2 separate regions of the Homo sapiens genome follow, and region 1 is linked to region 2. The links come from fine-mapping of genetic effects on gene expression. A gene starts in region 2. The other region holds a variant in brackets. All regions are shown on one strand. Distances are between the middles of the regions. Region 1 holds the start of LOC105369329 (a long non-coding RNA gene). Region 2 holds the start of SYT7 (synaptotagmin 7).

Region 1 (4,246 bases), 84 kb before region 2:
CTGGTGGCTCCTCAGGATGCCAGTCCCTATTGAAAGGACATCTTGCTGTGTGGCTTCCCTCTTCTGCTCTGTGATGTCAGGGGACAGTGGGAGAGTTCCGGTCTCTCAGCATGAGAGTTTAGAAGACATGTGAGGCAGTTAGCCCCTAGGGGATGGCCCAGAGGAGCAGCAGGCCAGGGGCGCTGACCCCATGGCTTCATTTTCAGTGGCCTCATCCCCTTGCTTCCAGAGAGCATCAGCCCCAGAGCTCTTTCCCCTCCAGGCCCAGGCAGTCGGCAGAGTGTACCTGTCACAGGCCTGAGCCCTGGAATCCGACTGCCTGGGTTCAGATTCCAGCTCTCCACAACCCAAGGCAGCTCCCTGCCATCAGTCGGTCACTTAACCCTTCTGTGACCTCCAGTTGTCACTTAACCACACTGAGCTTCAGCTAATAGCAGCAGCTGCCTTCTGGATAAAATCCAACATGCACAGAGTGCACACAAATAGAAGCTGCCCTGATGCTGGAGCAGAGGAAACGGAGGCCAAGACAGAGGTGGAGACTTGGTCAAGGCCACACTGCAGGCCGGGCGCGGTGGCTCATGCCTGTAATCTCAGCACTTTGGGAGGCCGAGGTGGGTGGATCACGAGGTCAGGAGTTCAAGACCAGCCTGGTCAACATGGTGAAACCCTGTCTTTACTAAAAATACAAAAATTAGCCGGGCGTGGTGGTGGGCACCTGTAGTCCCAGCTACTCAGGAGGCTGAGGCAGAGAATTGCTTGCACCCGGGAGGCAGAGGTTGCAGCGAGCCAAGATCGCGCTACTGCACTCCAGCCTGGGCGACAGAGTGAAACTCCACCACGCCCTCCGCCTCAGCACCCCCCCAAAAAAGCCCATGCTGCAGATTGTCACAGGGTCTGGTCTCTGTCTCCTGCTTGGCCCTGGGTGGGCCCCCTCAAGACCCTTGCCTGAAGCCGAGCGAGGTGGCTTACGCCTATAATCCCAGCACTTTGGGAGGCTGAGGCTGGAGGATCACTTGAGCTCAGGAGTTCAAGACCAGCCTGGGAAACAAAGTGAGACCATCTTTACACAAAATTAAAGAATTAGCTGAGCATGTTGGCACATGCCGGTAGTCCCAGCTACTCGGGAGGCTGAAGTGGGAAGAGAGCTTGAGGCCAGGAAGTTGAGGCTGTAGTGAGACATGTTCACACCACTGTACTCTAGCCTGGGTGACATACTGAGACCCTGTCTCAACAAAACAAAACAAAACCCTTCCCTGAGAGCAGCCCTCCTCTCTATCAAGGGTGGGTGATCACCTGCACAGCCTGACCTGGAAGGCCTTGGCTGCCCTTCCAGTGGTTTACTCCCACTTAAGCCCCCGTCCCTAAGTCCAGCTTCTGCCAGGCCCTCCTGGCAGCTGCCTGCTTCTCCCTTCACCTGGTAACCAGGCTTTGGGTGTTCACAGAGTCAGTCCTTCTGGCAGGTGACATTGCAGTTGCTGCCAGAAGTTTCCTGCCCCCTCCTCAACGAATATTTTTAAAAACTTGCTGAGGTGTACAGGGATGATGATTAACCTTTATTAAGCCCCCACAGCCTGCGGGTGCTGAGAATATCCGTGGGCCTTCACCTTTCCAGCAAGAACACAGAGGGGCCTCCCTCTGGGGGAAGTTTAGGGACACAGGTGGGTGCGGCGCTGACGGCTTTGGTGTGGGGGTGTGGAGCCTAGAGGGCTGACGGGACAGCAGGTGGGGTGGCTGCTGGGCGCCGTGAGATCAGACACGGCTTGTGACGCGTGTGGACGCGTGTGAGGTTGCTGTTTGTTCGTCATGGCCTGGTGGCGGCT[A/G]ATGTTGACAGGTGCCATCTGGCCTGAGTCACGTGGTAGCAGGCAGCACCACCGGCTCGTTGGCTTGACAGCTGTCCAGCTGGGAACACAGGGCTCCTGGGGGTGGGGGCGGTTAGAGGCATCTGTCTTTGGGAACTGGAGGCCTGGGGGTGGTGGGAGGCCCTGCGTGGGGAGGCTGAGGACGGGGGATATGATACACCCAGACAGATGGAGTGTGTGAGGCTCTGAATCGGTTCCCCAGTCTCCTCTCTGACCATCTGGAGGGCCACCCATTCCTGAGGAACTGTTCCCCGAACAAGCAAGTATGCAAGGGCAGAGGATGAATCAGACCCAGCAGGTCCCACTGAGGGCCCCCGTTGAAGATCAGAGGGGTCTGGCAGGGCCTGTGGGACATCCCGCCATGCCTCGCTTCCTCCCCACACTGCTGCAGACAGGCTCTGCCCAGGACCTTTGTGATGGGCAGGTCAACCTGACCAGAGGTGAGGCGACCTGCCCAAAGCCATGCGGTGCCGGCCCCGTGAGCGCGCTCGCACTCTCTTCTGAATCCAAGCCTCTCCCCACCCCATCGCTTCCCTGGGGGTCTCGGATGAGCAGGAATGGGGCCTGGGAACTTCCTGGGAGAGCCAGGCAGTGATAGGGATGGGCTGTGATTTCTTTTGCTAAAGAGGTGAGTGCACTTGTGTGAGAGTGTGTGTGTGTGTTTGAGTGCTAGAGTGTGTGAATGTGACTGTGTGTGTGAGAGCATTAGTGTAAGTGCATGAGTGTGAATTTGGAACTGTGAGTGTATGTGCCTGAGAGTGTGAGTATATGTGTGTGAATGTGAGTGTGAGAGTTGTATGTATGAGTGTATATGTAAGTGCGGTGTGTAAGTGTATATGTGTATGTGTATGTGTATGTGTGGGTGTGTGTTGGAGTGTGAGTATATGTGAAAATGTATGTGTGCGAAGATGATTTGTGTGTATTTGTGTGTATGTATCTGTGTGTGTGGGTGTGTGTGGGTATATGAGTGTGGGTATGCGTGTGTCTATGTGTGTAAGTGTATATGTGTGGGTATGTGTTAAGTGTGTGGGATATGAGTGTATGAGTGTGTGATTATGAGTGTGTGAGAGTGTATGCGTGTGTATTTTGTGAATGTGTTTGTGGGTGTGAGTATACGTTAGTGTGAGTATATAAGTGTGTATGAGTGTGAATATGAGACAGTATATGTGTGTATATATGTGTGAGTGTATGTGTGTGTGTGGGTGTGAGTGTGTTAGAGTGTGCGTATATGAATGTGTGTGAATATGAGTGTGAGTGTATATAGGTGAGTGTGAGTGTGAGTGTATGTGTGTGGGAGTGGGAGTGTATGAGTGTGTGTATGTGTGTGAAGATGATTGTGTGTATTTGTGTATGTGTGTCTGCGTGTGTGGGTATATGAGTGTGTTAGTGTGTGTATGTGAGTGTGTGTGTAGATGTGTGGGTGTGTGTTAGAGCGTGTGGGTATGAGTGTATGTGTGTATGTGTGTGTGTAGATGTGTGTGAGTATATCTGGGTGTAAATGTGTGTGTGTTAGAGTGAGTGTATGAGTGTGTATGAGTGTGAATATGAGTGTGTGTGAGTGTATATATGTGTGAGTGTATGTGTGTGGGTGTGAGTGTATGAGTGTGAGAGTGTGATTCAGGTTGGAGAGCCTGTGTGTGTGTGTCTTTAGAGTCCCCAGTTAAAGGGCCAGGGCAGGAAGGTGTGTGTGTCGCTCACCTGGCCTAAGCTTGGGTGAGATGCTGAAGGCGCTGTGCTCAGAAAAGGCTATATGAGCCCCTGGGCCAAGCAGCCTCCTATGGAGCCTGATGACAAGGTTGTGGTCCCTACGGTCAGACGGCCTTGGCGCAGAGCCATGCTCTCCTGGTGGGCTCTGGCACTGGGGGCGGTGGGCTGGCATTGAAGAACATGGGCAAAGCTTCTCCTGAGCACAGAACAGCATTTGACAGTGTGGGGCTTCTGGGAGGACAGTGCAAGCAGGGGCAGAGGGAGAATGATCACGCGACTCCCTGAGTGGTCACAGGCTGATGAGGTCTGACGATGGAGGCTGTCAGTCAGAGTTCATCACAAGCAACAAAAACCACAGCTGGCTAATTTAAGCAGAAAAGGAATTTCTTAAAAGGACTTGGTCACTCACAGAATCTTCAGGTGGACCTGAGAATAAAACTTAGAGCCCGGCCGGTCGTGGTGGCTCACGCCTGTACTCCCAGCACTTTGGAAGGCCGAGGCCGGCGGATCACCTGAGATCAGGACTCCGAGCCAGCCTGACCAACATGGAGAAACCCCGTCTCTACTAAAAATACAAAAATTAGCCGGGTCCGTGGTAGCAGGCGCCTGTAATCCCAGCTACTCAGGAGGCTGAGGCAGGAGAATCGCTTGAACCCAGGAGGTGGAGGTTGAGGTGAGCC
Region 2 (4,246 bases):
ACCAGTACCAGCCAAGGGGAGATGGGGAGGCAGAAATGGGGGACACAGAGCCCTGGCTTGGGGAGCTGAGTCTAGGGAGCCTTGGGGGAGCTGGGGGGAAGGGAAATCTGACCTGGAACTATAGAGCCTACAAAGGTGGGCAGGGATGCCAGAGGGCAGAGGCCAGAATGAGATCTTTGACTCCTCAAGGACCCCAGATGACTAGGCTCAAAGGCAGACTGTGCCCTCTCCAGCCTATGTCTGACCCCACCCAGCCCAATGCCCACACCGGAGAGGAGTCAGCCTCAGGCCAGCCCCTTTCCCAGTCACAGCTGCCCTACCACAGGCACTGGTGGGTCCCGCAGCTGCAACTGGGGTGGGCAAGACAGGTCCCAACTGCAGCCAGAGAGGCCCATTCAAGGAGGGGGTGAGGGAAGAGTTGAGGGCTGCCAGCACACCAGGGATGGTACTGGACTCCAGACCCTTTGCCTAGAAGATGCCAAGCACGTCAAGCTGGCCTCCGTGGTGAGGGCAGAGGTGCTTGGAGGAGTGGTGATGTCATGGTGCCCAGGCATGGGAGGAAAGAGGAGGGAGGGAGAGGGGAGAGGGCACAGCCCCAGGCCAGTGGCCTAACAGGCCAGAGGGGAGGCTGCCAGCCTGGTGGGCGAGGGGATGGATAGTGTCCTTATTTCTTCCCTACCTTCCATCCTCATACCCCAGAGCTGGCTTCTGAACTAAGCTACTGGCTTCTAAGAAGGTGAGCAGAGCAAGAGAATACTCCTGCCACGGGCCATGGGCTGGAAGCCGGCGGCCTCTTCGACGAAGATGCCAGGGTAGGTGACCTAGGTCCAGACAGATGAGGGGAGGGCTCTCCACAGGCAATGCCCCTTCAGCCCTCACCTAGAGGACATTCAGAGAAGGGCGCAAGGTTCCAGAGAAGGAGACTGAATCTCTCACCCTCATATCCAAGTGCTGAGTGAGGGCAGTGCCTGGCGCCCAGTGGGTCGTCCTCAATATCGACTGGACTGAAAAGAATCGATGGGGGGTGGGAGCCGATTCCTCAGGAGGCAGGGACAGGCTGAGGCTGCCCCTAGAGGGGAAAGAGCAAATGTGGGGCTAGGGCAACAGTGGGCAAAGCCAGCACCCACTGGACTGCCTTCAGGAGCCTCAGGGCTGCAGGCTCCTTCTGTGCAGGGTCTTAGAGCCCTTCCTTCCCTACAGCACCGCCGCCCCCAGGAGGCTGGCAGGAGGGAGCCTGGAGGCTCTTCGTTTGGGAGCACATCCTGGGCTGGGGAGTCGTGCTTTTAGCATCAGAGAGAAGCCCAGAAACAGACCCTGATGCCAGAACTGGCAGACTGGGGGTGCTGGGACTGGGTGGAGCACCCCAGGTGGGAGCGGGGATGGAGCCTGGGCAGGAGCTGCAGGGGACCTGCCTACAGGTGGGCACTGGGTGAGGAGGCATCAGGAGCCAAGGAGGAAATGGCAGAGCAATTTCCGAGGAAGACGGGAAGATTCTTCGGCTTTGGCTTAGAGGATACCAAGCAGACAGTGGGCTCCCAGGCCACTCCCCTGGCGGGCGAAGCAGAAGGCAAAGGAGTTCGGCCCTCCCCCACCCCAGGACGGGAGAGAGTTTGGGGTTGTTTGCTTCCCCCTCCCCAAACCTAGGAGAACATTCTCTTGGCACCCCCATTCTCATGAGCCCCTGCTCTCTTTCCCTTCAGGCACCCCCGTCTCACCCATCAACGCCCCTGCAGTTCCCCACCCCCCAGAACCTCCCTGCCCAGCTGCCGCACCAGATTCCCACTTGCCCCCTGGCACCCTCTCAATTCACAGTTGGCACTGCGATGCCACTCCGCTCCCCTGTGCCCGCAACCTTGGCCAAGAGCTGCCGGGATCCTCGCCCTGGGGTCCGCCAGCGCTGGCACCCCCGGGGCACCGGTGCTGGGGAGCCTCGGGTGCCTCTGAGGGCACTGCCCGGCTCCCACAGGGGCAGCGGCTCCTCGCTCCGCCACACACGTTGTCCTTGGGCTGTTGAGGGGTGGGGGAGAGGTCCTTGTGGGGACACTGCGAAGCCGGTCCCAGACATCCAGCCTGGCAGTGTCCAGACTGCGGGGGACCGGGGTCCGAGCCGCTGCCGCTCGATCCCGCGCCCCCGGGGCTGGGATGACCCCTGGGGGAGCCCGTGCGGCTCCGGGCGGACAACAGCCCCAGGCTGGGGCTCCGAGACGGCGTCCGGCGCTGCCGCTGTCCTGCCCGCCGGTGCGGGGCGCCCCAGCCCGCCGGGGCCGCGCTTACCTGGGCTGGCCGCCTCCGGGTCCCGGTACATGGTCCCCTCGTCGCCGGTTCCCTCCGGGCTCCTCAGAGCCGCCCGCGGCCGCGCGCTGCTCCGCCGCCGCCGCTGGGCATGGGGCCGGGCGACCCCCGGGGGCGGGTCCGAGGGCGGGGGCCGAGCGGGCTGCACCTAGCCGCGGAGCCGGGGAGCGGGGGCCGCCCGCCAGCCCTCCCGCCCGCCCGCGGAGCACGCTGCCGCCGCCGCCGAACAGCGCCGAGCCGCCTCCCTCCGGCCTGCGCGCCGCGTGTGCGCGCCGGAGCGTGTGTGTGTGTACGAGGCCGTGTGTATGTGTGTGTGTGAGCGCGTGTGTGAGCGCGCCCGGGGCACCGCCGGCGCCGCCCGCCAGCCGCCGAACGCCGCGGCCACAGCCACCGCCTGCGCCCGCTGCCGGCCGCGCGCCGCACTGCACCCGCGCCCGCCGCCGCCCGAAGCCGCCCCGAGGGCACGGCCGCCGCCCCGCGCCCCGCCCGCCTCGCAGTCCCCGCGGGGAGGGCCGCCGAGCCCCACGGCCGGGCTCGTCCGGCCAGGGGATCCGGCTCCGCTGCGCGACCCACCCCCAGCCCGTGCTCCCCCGATGGCCGCGGCCTGGCACCGGGCAGGGCCGCAGAGCCGGCCACCTCCTCCGAGGTGCCCTTTGGCTCCGATCCAAAAGGCGTGGAGATCCACTCCGGGTTTTCCGCTTGCTGGCGGCTCGAGGGCGTCAGCTCCGGACTCAACACCGCGGCGGTCCGGGGCAGACGGACTGGTGTGTGCAAAAACCAGGAGTGGAATTTTTGGCAGCGCTGAGCCTGGGTCCGCCAGTCCGGTCTTTCTGCAAGCTCGCACACAGGTGGAGCCGAAAGGGCTAAGATCCCTGCCCTCGGTAGGAGGTTTGGCCTAGTGACCCTCCTCACCTAACCCAGCCCCACGAAAGAAGAAAATAGACTTTTCAGCCTCTGGCTATCCCTCTATAGCAGCAGCTCCTCCTCTGATCCTCCCCTCTATTCCTTGACCCTAGCACTTCGGAGGGTAGGAAGGAAATCCCTCCTTCTCCTTCCAACCCTGGACCTCTCTTGGTCCCCTCTGCCTCTCTGCCGGCTCAGCACAGTCTAAATCAGGTGAACACTCATTTCTCTACAGAATTTGGATGATTTGATTCTGGGGCAGGGAGGAGAAGAGACCTGTCTCCTAAGGATAAGAAAAACCCAGAAATGAACCATTAGTGGTATGGTAGGCACAGAGACCTCCCTGCACACACCTACACACGTAATCACCTACATACACACACACACACACACACACAGACATGATGCCCCCCACACACACACCCACACAGACATGCTGCCCACACAAAGAGACACATACACTGACGCTCCCCACAATACAGGTGCTGCCCCTACCCTTCACTGATGGGTCAGGTAAGAGGGCAAAATCCCTGGGTCTGTGGCAGCATCCTGCCCTCCCCTGTGCTGAGAATGCAGTTTGCAGGTGAGCCAGGCTTCCTAGAGTCAAGGATTATTATTTCCACCCTGAGAAATCCACTTTTGCTGGCTTTATACTGCACTACTCATGCCCAGCCACACCTCCACCTGCCCACAGTGTGGAAGGCAGCCAGGAACAACCCTCTATCTCAAGTCTCCCCGACACACACACAAACAGACCCCATCCCCTTGAAATCACATGGAGGCTATCCCCAACAACCACCACACACACACATACACACATACACATTCACCTCCACCTACAGCTTTTCCGGTTGAGAAAAAGATAAGGAAGTTCCCCCAGCAAACCTCCATGAAGACTGTTCCAGTGGAGAGCAGATTTCCTGGGAATGAATGTTCTACATAAAAATGGAAGGAAAAAAGGCATCGTAGGTTAAGGCCACAATTCCTCAGTGGCCAGAAATCTCAGCCCTCACCCTCTGGGGAAGGGCCATCCTATTCCATACACCTCACA

The links. PIP is the estimated chance that this variant, and not a neighbour inherited with it, causes the effect. A credible set is the group of variants that fine-mapping cannot tell apart.
Region 1: its variant is the best candidate, but not a certain one, in a credible set for the expression of SYT7 in cerebellum (GTEx, PIP 0.53).

The regions. Positions count from the first base shown.
Region 1 is chr11:61,494,381-61,498,626 of GRCh38, forward strand. It overlaps LOC105369329 (a long non-coding RNA gene), which reads left to right and starts at 2,212. Exons shown (of 3, transcript NR_188527.1): 1 at 2,212-2,299. RefSeq lists an enhancer at 1-583. The variant A/G (reference allele first, on the strand shown) is at 1,821.
Region 2 is chr11:61,578,516-61,582,761 of GRCh38, forward strand. It overlaps SYT7 (synaptotagmin 7), which reads right to left and starts at 2,561. Exons shown (of 13, transcript NM_001365809.2): 1 at 2,275-2,561. The coding sequence starts at 2,305. It overlaps LOC105369331 (a long non-coding RNA gene), which reads right to left. Exons shown (of 5, transcript XR_950166.3): 4 at 4,081-4,130; 5 at 2,891-3,478. RefSeq lists silencers at 2,582-2,671, 2,692-2,841, 2,852-3,011.